Regions from separate parts of the Homo sapiens genome. Here all the other regions are linked to region 3. Evidence: fine-mapped QTL for protein levels in blood plasma. A gene starts in region 3. Each other region holds a variant in brackets. All regions are shown on one strand. Distances are from middle to middle. Region 1 overlaps RNASE4 (ribonuclease A family member 4). Region 2 overlaps RNASE4 (ribonuclease A family member 4). Region 3 holds the start of RNASE4 (ribonuclease A family member 4).

What was found. PIP is the chance, under the fine-mapping model, that this variant and not a neighbour inherited with it causes the effect. The UK Biobank Pharma Proteomics Project read protein levels with antibody pairs (Olink). The fine-mapping took linkage between variants from a reference panel, not from the people measured, so its PIPs are less certain.
Region 1: its variant is fine-mapped to the plasma level of the RNASE4 protein (UK Biobank, PIP above 0.99).
Region 2: its variant is fine-mapped to the plasma level of the RNASE4 protein (UK Biobank, PIP above 0.99). The variant lies in the coding sequence of RNASE4. If it changes the protein, the assay may bind it differently, which can mimic a change of level.

Annotation. Positions count from the first base shown.
Region 1 is chr14:20,694,217-20,697,106 of GRCh38, reverse strand. All of the region lies in intron 1 of RNASE4 (ribonuclease A family member 4), which reads right to left. The region is part of intron 3 of EGILA (EGFR interacting lncRNA); the gene reads left to right. Among named protein-coding and RNA genes, the nearest start is that of ANG, 6.9 kb to the right of the region's middle. The variant C/T (reference allele first, on the strand shown) is at 1,780.
Region 2 is chr14:20,697,951-20,702,195 of GRCh38, reverse strand. It overlaps RNASE4 (ribonuclease A family member 4), which reads right to left. Exons shown (of 2, transcript NM_002937.5): 2 at 980-2,841. The coding sequence starts at 2,824. The coding sequence ends at 2,381. EGILA (EGFR interacting lncRNA) reads left to right here. Exons shown (of 4, transcript NR_174964.1): 2 at 2,698-2,874; 3 at 3,067-3,160. Among named protein-coding and RNA genes, the nearest start is that of EGILA, 6.9 kb to the left of the region's middle. RefSeq lists a silencer at 2,380-2,545. The variant G/A (reference allele first, on the strand shown) is at 2,713.
Region 3 is chr14:20,682,311-20,686,555 of GRCh38, reverse strand. It overlaps RNASE4 (ribonuclease A family member 4), which reads right to left and starts at 1,996. Exons shown (of 2, transcript NM_002937.5): 1 at 1,798-1,996. TRY-GTA5-5 (tRNA-Tyr (anticodon GTA) 5-5) reads right to left here and starts at 3,283; the gene lies at 3,195-3,283. It overlaps TRP-TGG3-2 (tRNA-Pro (anticodon TGG) 3-2), which reads right to left and starts at 2,540; the gene lies at 2,469-2,540. It also overlaps a transcript of ANG not described here. RefSeq lists enhancers at 1,705-1,844, 2,645-2,774, 2,915-3,104, 3,305-3,614 and silencers at 2,075-2,194, 2,465-2,514.

The sequences.
Region 1 (2,890 bases), 11 kb before region 3:
ATTTGAGGACAGCAGGCCAGTGTGGATACCAATGGGTGCATCTCAAAGCTGTAGCTACAAGAGAAAATTGAATGATCTCCACATCATCCCAACGCACACTTTTGGGTCAGGATTTTCCCCAAACGCTTTCTCCACTGCACCACCCTGACTCACAGTAAGAACTTCTTTTGACACCGTGGTCTAAAAGACTGAGGCTGTGACCATGAGAAAATTACTTAATCTCTCTCAGCAGATTTCCTCATAAGCAAAATGAGCATGTAATACCTACCTCTTAGGGATGTTATGAAAAGAAAATCAATCTAAGCGCCTATAACAAGGCCTAGCACAGGGTAAATGCTCAGTAAATATTGGCAATTACTGCATTTTTTTTTTTTTACCACTTCCATTTTTCTTGGTTTCCTCTGCTTCTGTCAATCTGGATAAAATAATGAATGACTACAGAGTTGCATATATTATTGACTCCTCTTTATTTCGTAGAGCTAACTGTATTCTCAAGATATTGGAAGTCTGTTTTTAAACTATAAAATATCTCAGCTACTAGATTCCTAGAAAAATGTTTCTTCTCCAAATTGCATGGAATTTTCTTCCTTGCATGTCACTATTCTTCAAAGCATTTAGCATTTTGGAGTGTTCCTTCTTTTTCCTTGCAAAGCCAACAATCACAGCTGACCAGGACTTCAATTCTTCAATTGATTCACGCAGGATAAAATGACCTGCCTGTGACTTGACGTTTTATTTTAAACAGCTTGTGGTTGTGATAGAACAAGAGGCCCAGACCAAAAAGGACTAGGAATGCTTGCTCAGGTGCCAGTACCATCGGCAGGTCAGGAAACACTCCCATCCCACTGCCATGTGATTTCCTATGAAACAGCGATTTCCCTGAACACCAGAGCAAACTATGCGATGATAATGCTCCAAGCAGATGTTTGGAGAAGATGTGGGTTTTCACAGCTTATGCTGTGATCAATATAATAATGGTCCATGCCTTTCACTTGCCCTATCAAGGCCTTGAGTGGCAGCGATGATCTTGAGTAACTTTGCCTCACCTCAAGGAAATAGCACTGGTTGGAGAACTTGAGAAAAGGGCCCAAATAGTTTACCAGAAACTGGGACTTTCTCATTTCCTGAGAGGTTTTTGAGATTTGGTAATATGGCAAATTTTCTAGTGACAGAGGTTTGGAATACTTTTTCCTATTTTCTTAAGGAATGACAGTGTTTTCAGTTTTGAAACAGACTAACCCAAGGAAGAGAGATTCTTGTGCTAAGCACATACCAGCTACCTACTTCTCAAACCCATTCCTAAATTTGAATACTTTCAGTGAGGCTGGGCTCTCCTAGGTGGTACCTGGACAATGTTCTATAACCTGAGTATTGGGGAGCCACGGCTTTTGGCCCATTTCAGGGCAATACCAGGAGCAGGAGAAGCCACCATAGGGAATACTGAGACCACAATAATTATGTGTTCACAAGGCAGTGAAACTGGCGACTTATAACTAATTTATTGGCAACCACTTTCTAAATAAAATATCCAAGTACCTGTCAACAGAAATTAGTTAACAGGAAGCTAACCACTGAGTCTGTAGATTGAACAGTGTATTTTACAAAGAGTGTGTTAACCTAAGTTATGTTAACTTAAAAACAAATCTTGAGAATTGAGGAAGAATAAGGGATAAACTGGGATAAACTGGGATCTTTCTTTTTTTTTTTTTTTTGAGATGGAGTCTCGCTCTGTCGCCCAGGCTGGAGTGCAGTGGCGTGATCTCGGCTCAGTGCAACCTC[C/T]GCCTCCTAGGTTCAAGCGATTCTCCTGCCTCAGCCTCCCGAGTAGCTGGGACTATAGGTGTGTGCCACCACGCCCAGCTAATTTTCACATTTTTAGTAGAGACAAGGTTTCACCATGTTGTCCAGGATGGTCTTGATCTCTTGACCTCGTGATCTGTCCGCCTCAGCTTCCCAAAGTGCTGGATTACAGGCGTGAGCCACAGCGCCTGGCCGGAATCTTCTATAACTTCCCCAAAACATCACACTTGCCAGACATTAGTTGATAAAGTAAAAGATTACAGAGGAAATAATGTAATTGGTTTTTGAATTTTATATAAAATAACCATGACAAGAGAATATCCTGGGAGCATTCCATTCAAACATCAAAATTATCTCTCGCTTAAGACAAAAGGTGGCTACCCTGAATGAATTTTGGTATTCATGCTGGATTACATATGTGTATATGTGTGTGTGTGTGTGTAAGAGTGAGAGAAACTATAATAATCTGTTGGTATGTTGGTACTTGGTCCTTGGAAACTTCTCTCCAAGGTCTCATATTTGTAGAAGTAATATTAGCTTATTATTTGACAGAAAAAACAATTTGCCTATCTTGGAAATTCTGCTTAGTAGCTACGAGCCCTGGAATTTTTCCATCTCTCTCTGTAGATCAACATACCATACTTTCCTTCACAGAGAGGTAAAGTCTACCTCCCTAATGACTTGTAAAAACTGACTGATAAGGAAAAAGTGGCCCGGCTCAGTGGCTCATGCCTGTAATCCCAGCACTTTGAGAGGCCAAGGTGGGCGGATCTCCCGAGGTCAGGAGTTCAAGACCAACCTGGCCAAAACGGTGAAACCCTGTCTCTACTAAAAACACAAAAATTAGCCAGGTGTGGTGGTGCATGCCTGTAATCTCAGCTATTTGGGAGGCTGAGGCAGGAGAATCACTTGAACCCAGGAGAGAGAGGTTGCAGTGAGCCGAGATTGTGCCATTGCACTTAAGCCTGGGCGACAGAGTGAGACTCCATCTCAAAAAAAAAAAAAAAAAAAACGAAAAGAAAAGAAAAAGGCATTTCTATCCTATGCAGTCCTCTCAGGGAGCAGCCAAGTAGAGAAAATGGGGGAAAGATCA
Region 2 (4,245 bases), 16 kb before region 3:
GAGGTCAGATGGGTCTGTAGAAAAGGAGAATTCAAAGGACTCAGAGCTTGGGGTGGAGACTGAAGAAACAGACAGGAGAGAAAGAAGAAAGATTTGGGACAAGTCACATTGGGAGCAGAGACTAGGGAGGGACTGATGTGTAAAAGAATGCCTGGATGTCAGGCACCTCAGACTATTTCCCCATTTTTCGACAAAAATCATCTAGATCTTGTAAGATGGAGAAATCAAAAGTGCCGTTTTCTGGCCATTTGGAACCATTGTTGGGTTTGTATTAGGGCCAAACGGTATTGCAGAAGAAAATAAGGCATTTAGGTTTTAGGTCAGGTGTGAGTTGAAGAGGTTTTAAGTTCTTGAGAACACAGGCTAAGGGAGAAGAAGGGGGAATGCAGGGTGGAAGGTTGCCCACAGTGAAGAAGTAAGTTTAAAGAGAAAGGTAGAGACACAGCAAAGGGGGTGGTGAGCAGCCCTGGGCTATAACGTGGACGATCAGCCAAAGCAGGCATCCCGCGATTGACTTGCCATCAAGGGAATGTGGGTGAATGACCATGGCAGGTGTCCCCACAGTGATCAGACACCAATGGAATGTGGGTGAATGATCAGGGCAGGCATCCCCACAATGATCAGACGCCAAGGGAAGACTATCTTCCCGAGTCCGTGACTGGTGTCTGAGTTTTGGGTCCATGGATAAAATGCGTCTCCTTTGTCTCTACTAGAGAGGAAAGAGAACTGGAATTGGAAGGACAGGGAGATTGAAGGGTAGCAAGAGAGGCTGGAGAAGACAGTGAAAAGACCGCTTACCCAATTTGAAATGGGTGAGATGTTCCTTGGGCTGGTTGGTCTGAGGACCTGAGGTCATAGGTGGACCTCCTCATGGAGTGAAGGCGAGGACAGGGGACCAGTCTCCTGAAGGAGTCCCCCTGTTCTGGGTCTTCGGCACTAAATGCCACACGCGTCCATGTGAAGAGACCACCAAACAGGCTTTGTGTGAGCAATAAAGCTTTTTAATCACCTGGGTGCAGGCAGACTGAGTCCAAAAAAGGAGTCAGCAAAGGGAGATGGGGTGGGGCAGTTTTATAGGATTTGGGTTGGTAGTGGGAAATTACGGTCAAAGTGGGTTATTCTCTAGCGGGCAGGGGCGGGGGTCACAAGGTGCTCTGGTGGGGAGCTCCTGAGTCTAATTGTCCAGGAGAAGGAATGTCACAAGGCTAATTGATCAGTTAAGGTGGGGCAGGAACAAATCACAGTGGTGGAATGTCATCAGTTAAGGCAGGAATTGGTTATTTTCACTTCTTTTGTGGTTCTTCAGTTGCTTCAGGCCATCTGGATGTATACGTGCAGGCTTGGGCTCAGAGACCTGACAGCTCCCTAATTTGCTTCTAAATATTCTAAGGGAGAAGGAAGAGCTGTGAGAATTGTCTTTGAGAGGAATCATTCTCTCTGGAGTAAATGAGACAAATCTTCTGTGTTGTGGTCATGGATCTGATAGGCATTAGTCTTTGACCAGAGTTTATGAGGTTATTAAGGTGCATGCATGTTTATAAACTAAACAAGAATTTAAAAGTCAGAGAAAAAAAATAATACCATAGCACAGTCTTCTCAGGTACCTTCGGTTTAGGTCCTTTATTACAAGGAAAACATAAAAAATCTTTCAATCAGTAAGAGCACATAAGTCTTAATGATCTAGTACATTTTTTAGTACTTTGACTTACTAGGGTGATTCAAAGTTTCAGGAAAAAGAAAATTCCCAGTATCATTTTCTTAATCTTATTAAACCCAAACATAAGAATGCCAAAAAATACAGAGCTCACATTTTGCTGGCATACATTTCCAAATTTTTAATGCCTCCCTGACAGGTGAATTTTAAGGATAAAAAAAGCAGACACTTTCAAAACATTCCTTGTGATGAAGTAGAAAAAGCCCTGGATAAGTGGCCAGCTACACTGGATTTTTGTCTCAATTCTTCCATTAACTTTACAGTCTTCAGCAAATCCCTTAACTTTGAGCTTCTATATGTAGTGACATCATTATAAGTGCTGTGGTATTAAAATGTGATAAACATAGATGAAAGCATTTTGAAATGTTTGAAATACTACATAAATACACATAATAACTAAATTCCACAGGATAGGATCTGAGAGAGCTAAGCTGACCAGTATTATAAAAGGAAGCTTATTACAGAAAAGCCCAGCCTCATTCATTACAGGTTTATGTCTCCATATCTCTTTGGTGCAATGTATTTAATAGAATGAGTTATATAGAGAAAAAGAGTAGGAAATGAGCTGAGGAGACAGAGCCTGGGACAGCTCAAATGCATTACTCACTGCTATTTAAGGAGTAAGTGTAAGGTCAACCACTCGCGATAATCCCTACATGGTGGCATCTAACCGTCAAAGTGCACAGGCACCTGTGGGTTACCCTCACAGGCAATGACAACACGTCTAGTGCTCGCTATGGCCCGATATCTGCAGTTGGGTGCCCTGGAACTTCCTGTGTCCCTGCAATCTGTGACCTTCACTACACCCTCATGGCAGTTCATCTTGCCGTTCTTGCATTGGATATTGGTGGTGCTGCAGATACTACGAATGTTCCAGATATCTTCATGGATGAAGGTGTTGAAGCGCTTGCAGTGATACAAAGTCATCTTCCGTCTTTGCATCATCAAGTTGCAGTAGCGATCACTGCCACCTGTCTCCTCAGGGTGCACGTGTTGCC[G/A]CAGGAATCGCTGGTACATGCCATCCTGGCCATAGGAGGGCTGGACCAGCCCCAGCCCCAGCAGGGTCAGCAGCAAAAGCAGAAGCAATGAATGGGTCCTCTGCAGAGCCATCAGTATCTTAGAGGTGCCTAGAAAAGAAAGCAAGGGGCAGGAGAAATAAGGTAAGAACTGGGCACTGGAAAAAGGTGTTGAGAATAGCAAGCCGGCATCCTGACTCCATAGTCTCCTCTTTCCTCCTTCTTATATGCACCATCTCCCCACTCATCTCTGCTACTTTTCCCACCCTTCTTCCTCAAGAGTGAGTAGTTTGCAAACATGATCTTTTCTGAAAGCAAGACCTTTCTCATTTACAGAGAGAAGTTGCTGTGGCCAGTACAATGACACAGGGCAGGGACTGACTGCGTGGCTGCCAGGTTTGTGTGGACAGAGTATAAAAAGAGAGAAAAGGTGAACCTACATGAAACTGCAGTTGTGTGTCTCTTGGGGGAACTCCGTAGGTGTATGATCTTTGGGGAGTGTTTGGTTCCCGGGAGGCTCCAATTCCCGACAGTTTGGATAGACTCAGCATACGTCACAGAAAGTTTACAAACTACTTTTAATACCTTACATCTGGGAATCTAGGTGGAGGAAGAGGACAGAGGAATATTTAGGCTTTGCCTTTCCTCTCACATGACTATTGTTTTTCTTTGTCATTAATTTTATTATTTTTCTTTTCTTTTTTGTCATGTGGCTATTATTCTAATGTGATTTAAAATCTATTCTAATTCTAGAATAATATATGTTATACATTAATTTAAAATGTATTATTCTAATTCTAATGTAAAATCAGGTCCTTTTGGAAATCCTTTTAATTCTATTTTTTAAAAAAAAGCAAAACCAGAATACCCAGTTACAGTTCTTAGAAGACAGTTGATAATAGCTACTGTTTGAATGAACTAATAAGTGAAATGAGTAAGCTAATGAACAAATGCAATTAAATGGATAGAGTAAAGATGTTTCCCAGGCTTATGAAATTGACTAATAAGAAAAGCTAAGAAATGTTTAAAAAATAAATTTAAACAGCACAATATTCTCAAAAGAAAACTTGGATTGTGTCTTCTTCTCCTTGCTGTTTCTATGCATAACCTAAAAAATCTAGGCCATGGAGATACATTGCTTTGTCTTGCATCTATTCTTGATGTTCCTTCTGTCTTGTCAATAGTTGTTGGTAGCTGTCTGTCTTCTCTGGTTGCAGCATCATTGTGTTGTCACCTCTTGGCAGTGAAAAATAGGCATATATTTTATAGCATTAAAAAAAAAAGCCAGAGTGGCAACAAAAAAAGCATTGCCATGTAGTTTCAGAACATTCATTGCTTTCATTGACAGATTAAAGAAAGGAATCCAGGCCTATCTTAGTCTACACCCTGTGCTCTTTCCACTATCTACTGCCTCTCTCATCCCACACCCAAAATATTCAGGATATCAAAGACATTTATGCTCAGAATTGCTACTTCCCAGCAGCAGAGTTTAATCAAGACTGGAGGTGGACTCAC
Region 3 (4,245 bases):
ATTTCATGGCATTCTTCCGGGAATAACTGTTTACAGAGAATTACAGAGAATCTGCTTAAATACAGATTCAATAAAAACTCCTAAAGAAAGGTTTCACTGACCTTCATTGGTCCACTTTTTTATCCAGCTACTTTAATTTGAGTCACAGTGACCAATGCTTCCAACAATAACTTGACAAACCTCTTACTCTTGCCTGCTTATAACCTGATTATCTGTTTTCAACAATAGCTAAAGCCATTCCTCTTTTCCTGGAATGATTTTTTCCATCCTCTCTGCCAAACGATAGTTCATCTCCACATTACTAGAGTGCCTCATGTCCTGTTACTAACATCGTACCACTCCATGGAGTCATAGAACAAGAGTGGGAGGGGCCTCTGAGACTCTGTCCACCCCTCATATTAAAGAAGAGCCAACTGAGGAACAGAGAAAGAGACATGTATTGCCCAAGGAACTCATTGCATTCGCCGGCCTGGAAGCTTTCCAATGCACCACACAATTTTTTTTTTTTTTTTTTTTAAGACGGAGTCTTGCTCTGTCACCCAGGCTAGAGTGCAGTGACGCAATCTCTGTTCACTGTAACCTCCGCCTCCCAGGTTCAAGAGAGTCTCCTGTCTCAGCCTCCCGAGTAGCTGGGGTTACAGGTGCTCACCACCGTGCCCGGCTAATTTTTGTATTTTTAGTAGAGACGAGGTTTCACCATCTTGGCCAGGCTGGTCTCGAACTCCTGATCTTGTGATGCACCCACCTCGGCCTCCCAAAGTGCTGGGATTACAGGCATGAGCCACCGTGCCGGGCCCACACAACTTTTATATTCCATACTAGTACTTTCTAGACAATCAGAGCTAACTTTAAAGGGGCCACTGAAAGTTGCTGTTCGAAGGAAACCTACATTGACTATTACCATAAATTCAAAAATTATTTTACTCTGCTTGTCATCAGTAAAAGAATTGCTTGAATTGAAGCGTATGTAATAAACCTATCCTCTTGCAAAACTTGTTAGTGGCTCTGTGGTTAAGTAAGTCTTGAATACCTGAGGCTGCTTCTGGGAAGGTGGTCCTGTGCCACAGATAATGATGTCCCTTGGGTTTCTACTGATTACATTATGACTTGATTATAAGATTTTTACTGTCACGAGGGAGGGTCTTGGCTCATCTGAGATTTCCCTAGCCCCCTGAGTGGTGCTGAAATTGTTTTAATAAAGATGTTGCGCTTTACTCATGTGCTGCTATTAGCATTTGACGTGCTGTCTCAGAGCGAGAAAACGGAGGATCCCAACCTTCCAGTAGGAAGGCTTAGAGAAGAGGCTGTTGGCAAGTGTCTCTAAGAATTGCACAACACTGGCTGAGGGTGGGTTAAGGGTGAGGAGGCAGAGGAGAGTAAACAGAAAACACCGATCCCCAAATGTTAGTTACGCTTGCAAAAAACTAAGGCCTGCTTCAAAAAGCTGGTGATTAGCCTGAATAACTAGCAAAGCTTTCTTAGTTGTGGGCAAGTGCAGGCCTCCTAGGGCTTCCCTTAGGTTCGGCGATTCTGTGGTCCCCCTCCAAGCCTACTAATCAATAGAAGCTGGCATCTGTGCCCAGCTGCGCAAAGTAAACCTGAGTGGGAATGTAAAGTCGTTAACTCATACAAATACGGGACTTTCACGTCCCTCCCCATTCCTCCCTCTCCAGCCCCGTCCCGCAAACTCCTCCCCAAGGAGTCCCAAGCTGCCTCTACTAGGAAAGGACTCCCCGGCCTAAACGCCCCTTATGAAGCTACCAGAGAGGAGGAGGAGGAGCAGGAGTGTGAACCTACCTCGGCCTCAGAACAAGTCCGCAGAAACGGGCAGGACAATGGAAAGAAGTTTTGTTTCTCACCCGCTTCTTCCTCCCTAGTACGATGATGGGGAGCCGGTAGAAAACGCAAAGATGTTCTTTTGAATCCTGCTTTGCATCTAGGTGGGGTTGGCGTCCTTGTGTGAGTGTGTGTACACGGACGGAGATGGGGGCGTGGTGAGGTGTGGAGGGTCGGCGTGCCAGCCTCTGCGTAGTTGGGACCGCGCCCCGCTTCTCCGAGGAGGCCCCTCCCGCCTGGATCCGCCCTTGGAGCTGGCGCCGCAGCAGCACCCGCCCCAGGGGCCGCAGGGGCAGCCCAGGCAAAGAACGAGCCTGGGATCCGCGCTCCTTCCTCAGCTGGACCCCAACGGGCAGCAGCCGCGAGAGCACTGCCTCCACGGAGAGCAGATGGCGGGAAACTGGCTTCTGCTCCCAATTGCCAGGCGGCCCTTCAGAGACTACCCCTGGCTGAGCGTCCAGGAACCCATGAAACTTGGTCTTGACACTGGTCGACAGCACCATCTGCCACGTACTTATTCGCTGCTGCTTTCTTTGGCAGGACAGCCCATCGCGAGACAGTTTGTGTTTCAAATTTAACGGAGACTTTTTTTCAGTAGTTGACAAAAGGGGGTGGAAAAACAGTAGCCACGAGGGCTCGTCCGGGATTTGAACCCGGGACCTCTCGCACCCAAAGCGAGAATCATACCCCTAGACCAACGAGCCACTGTAGCTGAGTGGTGCTTCCTATCACTCTGAATTTCTCTTTTCCGCCTGCTGTTCTGAAGGTTTTTTGTTTTGTTTCTTTTCCTCTGTTGTGACATTTCCCTTAGGCCTTATTTAGTTATTCCTTCCATCTTCACCAAGTTTCAAGTGTGGCTTATTCTCTGGCTTATTCTCCTCGATCCAGATGCAGGATGGGGTGAAGGAAGGCAGCTTTTTAGACTTTAGGTCACATGCTTGTGTCTCACTGAGCCCGGGGAGCGATTTAAGCCCGCTAGGGCCTGGAGGGAACCTGGAGGGGGCTGAAATAGAGATCGAGGGCCAGAGCTGAGCTCGGTTGCAAGGCTGTAGGGTACTGAGCCCCAGGACAGACGCGCGATACGTATATATCTGCCGGCCTTTGGACTTAACGTAGAAGCCAAAATATAACACACTTCGGTAAGACAACAGTGCCTTCCCCCAACGGTGGGACGATTCGGGTCTACTATCTTTCAGAAAGGTAACCAACTTTTCAAGACGCGATTAACGCAGCCCACCTCGCGGCTAAGCTGTTTCCTTCGGACAAGGGTGAGAGACAGAAACAGATTTGATCACGTCAAGATACAGAGATTTTTTGCACAAACGAAGAGCAACCGTAAACCCCAAAACAGCAGCGTCTCCTTCGAGCCGGAATCGAACCAGCGACCTAAGGATGACCACACATTAAGTACTACAGTCCTCCGCTCTACCAGCTGAGCTATCGAAGGAAGCACGGAAACAACTCTCCTAAAAATCCCTACTCGAGACATCCTTAACCAGAGACGGGAAAGAAAGAAATCTCTTTATACCCGGAAAGTAATTACTGCAGAGTCACAAAGCCAGCTTGTAAGACAGTCCTGCGTCCGAGGTTCTGAGGACAACCTTTCTAAATCTGGATTCCCCTGCCTCACTGAGGGGCTCCCAAGCAGAGCAGGCGCCCCTGAAACTCGGGCATACCGAGGCTGCTCATCCTCTGGGCGCCCGAGGGCTGTTGGCCTCACTGGGCGCGGACCCAGGGGCCTCGCGAGCGTGGATGCGTGTGTTTGTGTGTAGGGTGGGGACCGGCACCTGGGCGTCGGAGAACTGGGGGCTGAGGCGGTGGGACGCACACAATTCTGACTGCGCAACTGTGAACGCCGGAGAGGGCGGGCCTCCAGGCTTAGGCCCGGGCTCCCTGATGTCCTCACTTCCTGCGCTTCCCTCCCAATCTCGGCTCTTCCGCTTACACGTCCACAGACACGGGAGGGAGAGGGTGTGGAATGGAGCAGTGGTCCCCAACATTTTTGGCACTAGGGACCGGTTTCGTGGAAGACAGTTTTTCCACGGACCGCGGGGGCGGGGGGAAGAGTTGGGGGATGGTTTCGGGATGAAACTGTTCCACCTCAGATCATCAGGCATCACTTAGATTCTCATAAGGAGTGCAGTTTAGATCCCTGGCATGCGCAGTTCCCAATAGGGTTCGCGCTCCTGTGAGATTCTAATGCCACCACTGATCTCACAGGAGGCGGAGCTCAGGCGGTACTGGTAGCTAGCCCGGAGTTCACCTCCTGCTGTACAGCCGGGTCCCTAACAGGCCATGGACAGGTGCGCGGCCCAAGGGTTGGGAACCCCTGAAATAGAGGACATCTGGGCAAACCCAATGTTTCTGTGTGAATTCGCTTTTGGAGATAATATTTGCAGCTCATTCAAA